Regions from separate parts of the Homo sapiens genome. Here region 1 is linked to region 2. The links come from fine-mapping of genetic effects on gene expression. A gene starts in region 2. The other region holds a variant in brackets. All regions are shown on one strand. Distances are between the middles of the regions. Region 1 has its middle 4.2 kb from the start of TOP1MT. Region 2 holds the start of RHPN1 (rhophilin Rho GTPase binding protein 1).

The links. PIP is the estimated chance that this variant, and not a neighbour inherited with it, causes the effect. A credible set is the group of variants that fine-mapping cannot tell apart.
Region 1: its variant is the best candidate, but not a certain one, in a credible set for the expression of RHPN1 in whole blood (INTERVAL, PIP 0.56).

Annotation. Positions count from the first base shown.
Region 1 is chr8:143,336,960-143,341,286 of GRCh38, forward strand. It overlaps a transcript of TOP1MT not described here. Among named protein-coding and RNA genes, the nearest start is that of TOP1MT, 4.2 kb to the left of the region's middle. RefSeq lists an enhancer at 2,178-2,915. The variant G/A (reference allele first, on the strand shown) is at 2,375.
Region 2 is chr8:143,366,638-143,371,067 of GRCh38, forward strand. RHPN1 (rhophilin Rho GTPase binding protein 1) reads left to right here and starts at 2,239. Exons shown (of 15, transcript NM_052924.3): 1 at 2,239-2,410. The coding sequence starts at 2,351. It overlaps RHPN1-AS1 (RHPN1 antisense RNA 1), which reads right to left and starts at 1,998. Exons shown (of 1, transcript NR_026785.1): 1 at 1-1,998. RefSeq lists enhancers at 1,197-1,752, 2,493-3,400, 3,401-4,307 and silencers at 1,916-1,985, 1,996-2,455, 2,656-2,705.

The DNA.
Region 1 (4,327 bases), 30 kb before region 2:
TAAGAAAATAATTTATTATAGCATGAAAAAATAAAATACTGCACAATAAATTTAACAAAGGAAGTATCAAGCTTATACTCTGAAAACTGTAAAACATTGCCCAAAGAAATTAAAGACAGCCTAAATAAATGAGCAGCCATCCCATGTTCACGGACTGGATGATTTCATATGGTTAAGACAGCATTGGCCAGGTGCAGTGGCTCACGCCTGTAATCCCAGCACTTTGGGAGGCCGAGACGGGCGGATCACGAGGTCAGATCGAGACCATCCTGGCTAAAACGTCTCTACTAAAAAAATTAGCCTGGCATGATAGCAGGCGCCTGTAGTCCCAGCTATTTGGGAGGCTGAGGCAGGAGAATGGCGTGAACCCAGGAGGCAGAGCTTGCAGTGAGCCGAGATCACGCTACTACACTCCAGCGTGGGCAACAGAGCAAGACTCCGTCTCAAAAAAAAAGACGGCAATACTCCCCAAACTGATCCAAAAACTCAATACAATCCCCATCTAAATTCCAGCTGGCGTTTTTACAGAAATTGACAACCTGATCCTAAAATTCACAGGGAAATACAAGGGACCCAGAATAGCCAAAACAATGTTTGAAAAAGAATAACAAAGTTGGAGGATTCATACTTGCTGATTTCAAAACTTCAAAACTGGCCCAGGGAACACAGCAAGACCCCATCTGTACTAAAGATTTTTAAATTAGCCAGGCATGATGGTGTACACCTGTAGTAAGGGAGGAGACCACCTCTCATATTGTCTTCTGCCTAATTTCTGCCTCAAAGAAAAGAAAAAGTAGGAGTTAAAGAAAAGGCAGAAGTGAAATTCAATAGTCAAACAGCCCGGCGCCACACCCCAGGCCTGGTAGTTAAAGATCGGCCCGGACCTAATCGCTTCTGTTATCTACAGATTCCAGACTTCTTATGAGGAAGCATTGCGTAACTCCCTGTTTGGTTCTGTTCTGATCACCGGTGCATGCGGCCCCAGTTACGTAGCCCCCACTTGCACAATGTATCACGGCCCTTTCACATGGACCCCTTAGAGTTGTAAGCCCTTAAAAGGGACAGGAATCTGGACCTCGGGGAGCCCGGATCTTGAGAGGCGATTCTACTGATGCTCCCAGCTGATTAAAACCTCTTATTCCCTAAAACCGGTGTCCGAGAGGTTTTGTCTGCAACGTGTCCTGCTACAGTAGTCCTAGCTACTCAGGGGGCTGAGTGGGAGGATTGCTTGAACCCAGGAGTTCAAGACTGCAGTGAGCTATGATCAGGCTACTGCACTCCAGCCTGAACAACAGGCTCCATCTCTTAAAAAAAAATTTTTTTTTTGGCTGGGCTTGGTGGCTCACGCCTGTAATCTCAGCACTTTGGGAGGCCAAGGCGGGCGGATCACCTGAGGTCGGGAGTTCAGGACCAGCCTGACCAACATGGAGAAACCCCGTCTCTACTAAAAATTCAAAATTAGCTAGGCGTGGTGGCTCATGCCTGTAATCCCAGCTACTCGGGAGGCTGAAACAGGAGAATCACTTGAACCCGGGAGGTGGAGGCTGTGGTGAGCTGAGATCGCACCATTGCACTCCAGCCTGGGCAACAAAATGAGACTCCGTCTCAAAAAAAAAAAAATGTTAATTTTAAAAAGGGGGATAAATAATCTAAATAGACATTTCTCCAAAGATGAGATATAAAAGGCCAACAATCCTGTAAAAAGATGCTCAAAATCATCAGCCATGGGAGAAATGCAAATCCAACCCACAGTGAGGTCACCTCACACCTGGGTGGCTGCAGTCAACATGCTGGGGAGGGCGTGGAAAAGTGGCACCCACTGCACAAGGCCAGAGACACAGTTGGGGAGTCTGGGCCTGCAGACCAGAAGGGGTTTCTATGAACTGTCTGCCAATATTCCTGGGGTTGGCGGCCTCCTCCCCTTGTGCCCTCTTCTTCCCCAGGCCACTCAGGGGTTGCCCAAGGGAGCGGGGACAGGGCTTCACGCACTCTTCCTCACAGCAGGTAGGAGGACCCCTGTTTTGCATGAGAGAAACTAGGCTTAGAAAATTTAAAGAATTTCCCCAGAATCAAACAGGTGCTGAATGCAGGAGCTGATACCTATAAAGACGTTTCCCACCCAGAAGCCGGAGCTCCAAGGCTATGCAGGGACTGCCCAGGTGGGAGGCGGCGCCGCCCAGCAGACACAGCTGCGAGCAGTGGTGGAGTTTACCCCATCCAGAAGCCACACTGCAAAAGAAACAGTGACTTTGACCTTAACAATATACTTAATTTCAACTATTTCAACCAAAATACTGTCATTCAACATAATATGCTAATGCGATGGTATGCATCGTTCTTCTCAAAGCAGGCGTGCGTATCACACCCCCAGCAC[G/A]TCTCCACTGGGAGAGCTGCGCAGCTCGTGGCTGCGTACAGGACACAGCAGGGGTGACGGCTACAACTGCAGTGTGGCCCACTTGTGGCCATGTGACCTTGGCCCGGTTACTTAACCTTTTTGTACCTCAGTTTCCTCATCTGAAAAATGGACATAGCAGTACCTACTTCATAGAGGACTGACCAAAAGCAATGCCAGACACACAGCAAACACTCACTTACTGCTGGCTGCTCCCAGTACCCTACAACCCACAGCTCAAAGCTGCCGATGCAAGAGGGCACTCTGGGGGGCACCCAGGCTCCCTGGCAACCTACAGTGGGCAGGCAAAGGCCAGCACTGTAGCATTCCCACATTCCCAGCACTGGTCTACACAGCACTCCCCGCCTCCCCCACCAGGGACAGGGAGGGGAAGTGGGCCTGTGCTGGTCTAAACTGCATTCCCCTGCTCCCAGCGCTGATCTACACAGCATTCCACCCCTGCCAGCACTGGTCTACACAGCATTCCCCCCGTCCCAGCACTGGTCTACACAGCATTCCCCCACTCCCAGCACTGGTCTACACAGCATTCCCCCCGTCCCAGCACTGGTCTACACAGCATTACCCCACTCCCAGCACTGGTCTACACAGCATTCCCCCGTCCCAGCACTGGTCTACACAGCATTCCCCCACTCCCAGCACTGGTCTACACAGCATTCCCCCGTCCCAGCACTGGTCTACACAGCATTCCCCCGTCCCAGCACTGGTCTACACAGCATTCCCCCACTCCCAGCACTGGTCTACACAGCATTCCCCCACTCCCAGCACTGGTCTACACAGCATTCCCCCACTCCCAGCACTGGTCTACACAGCATTCCCCCACTCCCAGCACTGGTCTACACAGCATTCCCCCCCTCCCAGCACTGGTCTACACAGCATTCCCACACTCCCAGCACTGGTCTACACAGCATTCCCCCCTCCCAGCACCGGTCTGCACAGCATTCCCCCCCTCCCAGCACTGGTCTACACAGCATTCCCACCACCCCGTCAGGACATGGAGGGAGAGAAGGGGTGGGGTAGGGTACACACCATTTCCACCTGCTGCCTTCGGCCTTCTCCCACCCTTTCTGGCTCTCCTCCTGTGGCTTAGCTGCCTCCTGGCCATCTTTCTTCTCTCCCTCTGGACACCCCAGCATCAACTGGCTCCCCCTCCTTCCACTTCTCTCTGCTTCTGGCTGGCTTCCGGCTGCCCTGAGCTTTCTCTTCTTGGGGCTTCTTCACCAGGCCCCCCACCTCCCAGTCACCCTTTGCCCCAGGGCAATGGCGAGGCCACGCCGCTGGCTGTGGTGCCCCGTCCAGCTCACTCCCACACTGCACTTCTCTGTCTTCCTCCAGGTCCTGAGCTTTTCATTTCTTTGGTTTTCGAGTCCCCTCTTCCCCAGCTTTGTCTGTCTCCCTCTTCTTTTCTTTTCTGGAAACCAAGGCCTCCTGTCCCACTTTTGTGCCACTACCTAATTTGTCACTTTCTTCTTTCTTGGTTTTTCCCACCCACACTTCTTTTACATCCTCGTCCTCGTTCTGTGCTTGTCTCCTGGCCCGTAACTCTCCTTTCTGCTCAGTGTGGCCCTGGCTCGTCCTCCGTGCTGGGGTGGGCACCATGCCCTCACTGTGCACCTGCTCCTGGCCACGCTTCGCACCTCTTCTGTGGGAACTGCTCTGTCTATCCCACTGCCCAGAGCGCGCTCCTCCCCAGCTCCCACGGCGGCCCCTGCACTCTTCCGCTCCCCACAGCTGAGGGTCTCAGGCTTGCCCCTAGCGTCCCCGCCACCCTCTTCTCGTGCTGCCGCCCCAGTGCATCTCCCCACACGTTTGTCCTGAAGCCCTTTCTCCCCTTTCTCTTCGGATATTCTTTTTTTTTTCTCAGTTTGTGCCTCTCTTCCACACAGCCCTTGCCCCGGCCAGTGTCTGTGAGCTCAC
Region 2 (4,430 bases):
AGAAAATAGTAATTGAATATTTTCCTTCAGGAAACAGCACCCTGCAGGGAGGGGAAGTCTTATGACCCTCAAAGTTTGAGAGCCTCTCTTAACTTCCCAATGGCCTCTGTCTGCTGAACCAAGAAGCCTGCAAAACAAATACGTAAGAACTGGATACCATTTCAGTCACACATGCTTGCTGACAGTCACTGATATGGTAATGCCTCCTGTACACATAGCTGACTCTGAAGACTGCTAAGAGGGTTTGGGTCTCTGCTGTACAGGACCTTGGCAGCCTGCAAGGAGATGACTCACATGGAAGTCCCCACACAAGTGCACCCAGTGTGAACTTTGGAAGCATCGGCCCATGCTCAGGCCCACAGGTAAGATGGCCAGGAGCCCCTAACCTTGAGGAAACTTGAACCACAGAGCTGCTGGCGAAGGGGGTGGGTGAAGGTCTCATGTAGCCTGTGTGATTCAGGCAGAAGTGAGAAGGACGGGTGGGAACCCACCAAGTGGACGACAAGCTGAAGGGCTCCCAGGGAGCAGACACTTCAAGGGCCCCAAAAGGCCAGGAGAAAGAAAAAAAAAAGCCGGGTATGGTGGCTCATCCCTGTAATCCAGCACTTTTGGGAGGTTGAGGCAGATGAATTGCTTGAGCCCAGAAGTTTGAGACCAGCCTGGGCCTGGGCAATGTGGCGAAACCCTGTCTCTACAAAATATACAAAAATTAGCCGGGTGTGGTGGTGCAAGCCTGTAGTCCCAGCTATTCAGGAGGCTGAGGTGGGAGGATCACATGAGCCCAGGAGGTGGAGGCTGCAGTGAGCTGTGATCGTACCACTGCACTCCGGCCTGGGGAACAGAGTGAGGCCCTGTCTCAAAAGGCCAGGAGTGGAAGACAGGCCCTAGCCAGGAGGTTTCGCGTGGCTGGCAGGGGCCTTATGAGAAGGCTGTTGCTGGGAGGGGCCTGCTGCAGATGGCTGCGGCAGACCACGGAGCTTAGCCTTCAGGATTTAGATCTGGGGATGACAGGCTCCTGTGTGCTTGTTGCGGAGCCGGGAGCACAGGCACCAGAATGATCCCAGGGCTCAGCTCCAAGGCTCCGCTGGGCCTGTGGTGGGGCAGTGAACGTGGACAAGACCTGGGCTTCAGAGGAACTTGATGACCAGGAGCCGTGGTTACCGCCTGTGCCCTGGCCTTCCTGCTCTTCAAAGGGTGTGTTCTGAGCTGAGGCGAGACCCACACGAAATCCGAGCGGGCTCCGGAGTCACCAGACACCTAGGGAAGTATGGAAGGCCCGGAAGGACACACACAGCCGGGTGAGCCCCGCAGGGAGCTGTGCAGTCTCAGGTCGTCCAGTCCTGGGGCTGCAGGCCAGTTCTCCAAGCAGGTGGTCCTGGAGGCAAGCTGGTTTTGAAAGTAGGTTCTGAAAATAGGTCAGTCCAGGAAACAAGCTCTGGAAGTAAAGAGATTCGGAAAGCAGGTTCGTTCTGGAAACAAGTTCTACAAACAGGTAGTTCTGAAAGCACGTGGGTTCCAGAGGCAGGTGCTAGAAGGATGTGGGTTCTGTACGGAGGTTCTGGAGGGAGGCGGGTTCTGGACGGAGGTTCTGGAAGGAGGCGGGTTCTGGAGGCCGGTTTTGGAAGCAGGACGACACCGACAGAGGCGCCTCGGACTGGGGCCAGGCCTGGAGCCTCCGCTCCGCGGGCAGAGAGAAGAAAGCAGGCATTGTCGGAGGACTCACACAAGCACTTGTCCCTAACAAAACCGTTTTTAAAAACCCCATTGTGAACATTTTTGGAACAAGCCTCTTAGAGGGTCCCGTTGCCGGGGTGACAGGACGAAACGGCGCGAGCGGGCAGACTCCTGGAGTCCCCGCAAAGGGAGCCGAGGAGCTAGGCGCGCCGAGTCCAGGTCCGCCCTGACTCTCAGCTTGGGACGTTCCGTATAGTTTTTTTCTCCGTTTCCCGAACTTCTCCCGCACGCTCAGCGGCCGCCGCGGCGCATGCGCAGTACAACCTGCCAGCCAGCCGCGGGCGTTCCGGCCGCGGTTGCCAGGGGTTACCGTCCCGCGGGCGGGCGGAGCTGGCCGTCCAGAGCCCGCCTTCCTGGAACTCTGGTTGGCTGATATAGCTGTCCGTCGAAGCGGCATTGCCGCCTATTGGGCAATGGCCAGCTTCGCACGCCAGACCCGTGCCCCGCCCAGCCGCGCCGCGGGCCGCCCCCACTCAGGAGGGACAGTCGGGGACCGGCGCGGGCACTCAGGAGCCCGCGGCCCAGGTGGTGCGGGCGGCCCTAGCCCGGCTGCGGAGCGCTGCGCGAGCGGCGGGCTGGCTGACCCCGAGGGACCCCCAGCGCAGCGGGTGCGGCGATGATCCTGGAGGAGAGGCCGGACGGCGCGGGCGCCGGCGAGGAGAGCCCGCGGCTGCAGGTGCGCAGAACTGGCGCGGCGGCGGGAGGAGGGGCCCGGAATCCCGGCCTTTTCCTGCCCCCCCTCGAGGCGCGTTCCGGGCGCCCCCCTCCTACGTCTCATTCGGCCCGGACGCAGGCAGGGAAACTGAGGCCAGAGCCTGCGTCCCTCCTCCTCTGAGCTCGGTGGAGGTGCTTCCAGGCCACTCATGTGAGCCGGGAAATGCGGACAGCCAAAGTCTGGATCATCCTCACCGCTGAAGCGGGTTGGGGGGACGCCCTCCTCGTGTCCCCCTTCTGGGCGGATGTGGGGCTGGGCTCTGTGAGCGCCCTCCCCACACCCGCCATCGTGTTCCTTTCCGGCACCTGTACAGCCTCCTTCCCTAGTTCGGTCCTCCCTCTGCATCCGCTCAGGAACTGCATGCCCATTGGGTGCACTGGTAGCAGCGGGCAGCGAAGCCTCCTGGGTATGGGAAACCGAGAGAGGTCTTCCCGGCTGGCCTCTTCTCACTTCCCAAACCTCCTTCCCTTCTGAAGTCCCTAACCCGGGGTGCTGACTGGGCAAGTGGGAGGGGTGGGCAGGGCTGTGGAGACCTGCTGAGTCTGTGCCTGGGAAGGAGGGGACGTCTGTGGGCCTTGCTCTGCAGCCCAGAGCCTGCTTGTTCCCTGCGGACCAGCTCGAGGCTGCCCCAGTCCTCCTGCCAGGCCCTGGGCGCCCACGCCCGCCACGGGCTTTCAGCCGCGGGCTGCTCCTGCTCCTCGCCCCGGGTGAGCCTTTGATAGCGCGCGGCCCTCCTCCCCTCTGGGACGTCAGACTGTGTTGTCCCTGGGCTGGTTCTACTCGGCTTTGGTGTTTGGGGTTAGGTCTCCTAGAGGAGGAGGCGGTGCTATCAGCCAGGGTTTGGCTTCAGGTCACTGGGCTGGTGATGCTGACCGTAGCCCTCAAGGACGCCCTTCTTGCCCACCCCGAGGCGTGCCAGAGGCTGCAGCACCTCCTGGGCACTGGAGGGAAAGAGGCAGCCTGTGCCTGCCCCCTATGAACTTGCTCTGTCAGGGCGGCCATGCCTGCAGGTGGCCTGGGACGGCACATGTTGTTTTGGGTGGAATGTTTGGGAGGCTGTACAAACAAGATGTCCCAGAGGGCTCCGGAGGTGACGCTTTTCAGGCTGGGGGCTGTGCCTGGGCTCCCTGTCCTGGCCCTCCCTGGGCTGCCACCTTGGAAAGTTGGGGAGAAGCTGTTTCCAGGCTGCCGTGTCTCTCACAGCGTCCAGAAATGACCCCACAGTCAGGGTACTGGGGAGGGGCCCGTGGGAGGTGGCAGTGGGGCGGAGGCAGGCCCTGTGTCACACGCGCACCACTCAGGCTGTCCTGCCATCTGGAAAGTCTTCCCCGATGCCTGCTGCCGGGCTAGAGTGAGGCCTGTTCCACCCCCATCAGGCTGGCCCCCAAACTGGCCCTAAAGCTCAGAGTTCAGTGGGTCAGGGGTCGGTCGTTCATCCACTTAGAGGCCACACCTGGGCCTGAGGCCCTGTGGACAGGTCTGGGTGACTTGTATTTGCCCCAGGCGTGATGAGAGCAGGCTTCCAGCAAGCGCTTACCTGGTGCCAGGGCCAGTGCTACAGCTGGAGTCCTGCCATTGGTGCCTCCCAAGCCCTGGGCCTCAGCCCGTCTGATGAACAGGGTGAGTAAGTGGCCAAGGCTGCCAAGCTGGGAAGGGGAGAAGCCTGGCACGGCCCAGGGTGGCCAACCCAGCTGCCGTCCCTCCCGCAGGGGCTGCAGGGGCTCCCGGGGGAGGACCACAAGGAATACAGCCTGGCTGTATGCAGAAGGTTCTGTGGTTTCCTGGGGAGGCCAGTGGGAGAAGGGGGAGCAGGCTGCAGAGGGAGAGCGTTGGAGCAGCAGGTGGGCAGGGTGGCTGTGCCCCCCTCACCTGGTCTCCAGCATGCCGAGTGGGTCAGCCTGAGGTTCCCCAGCCTGGCTGGACAGGAGCACCCTCTGGGTGCTGGTTACAGGTTCCCAGGCCCCTGCCCAGGTAGATTGGG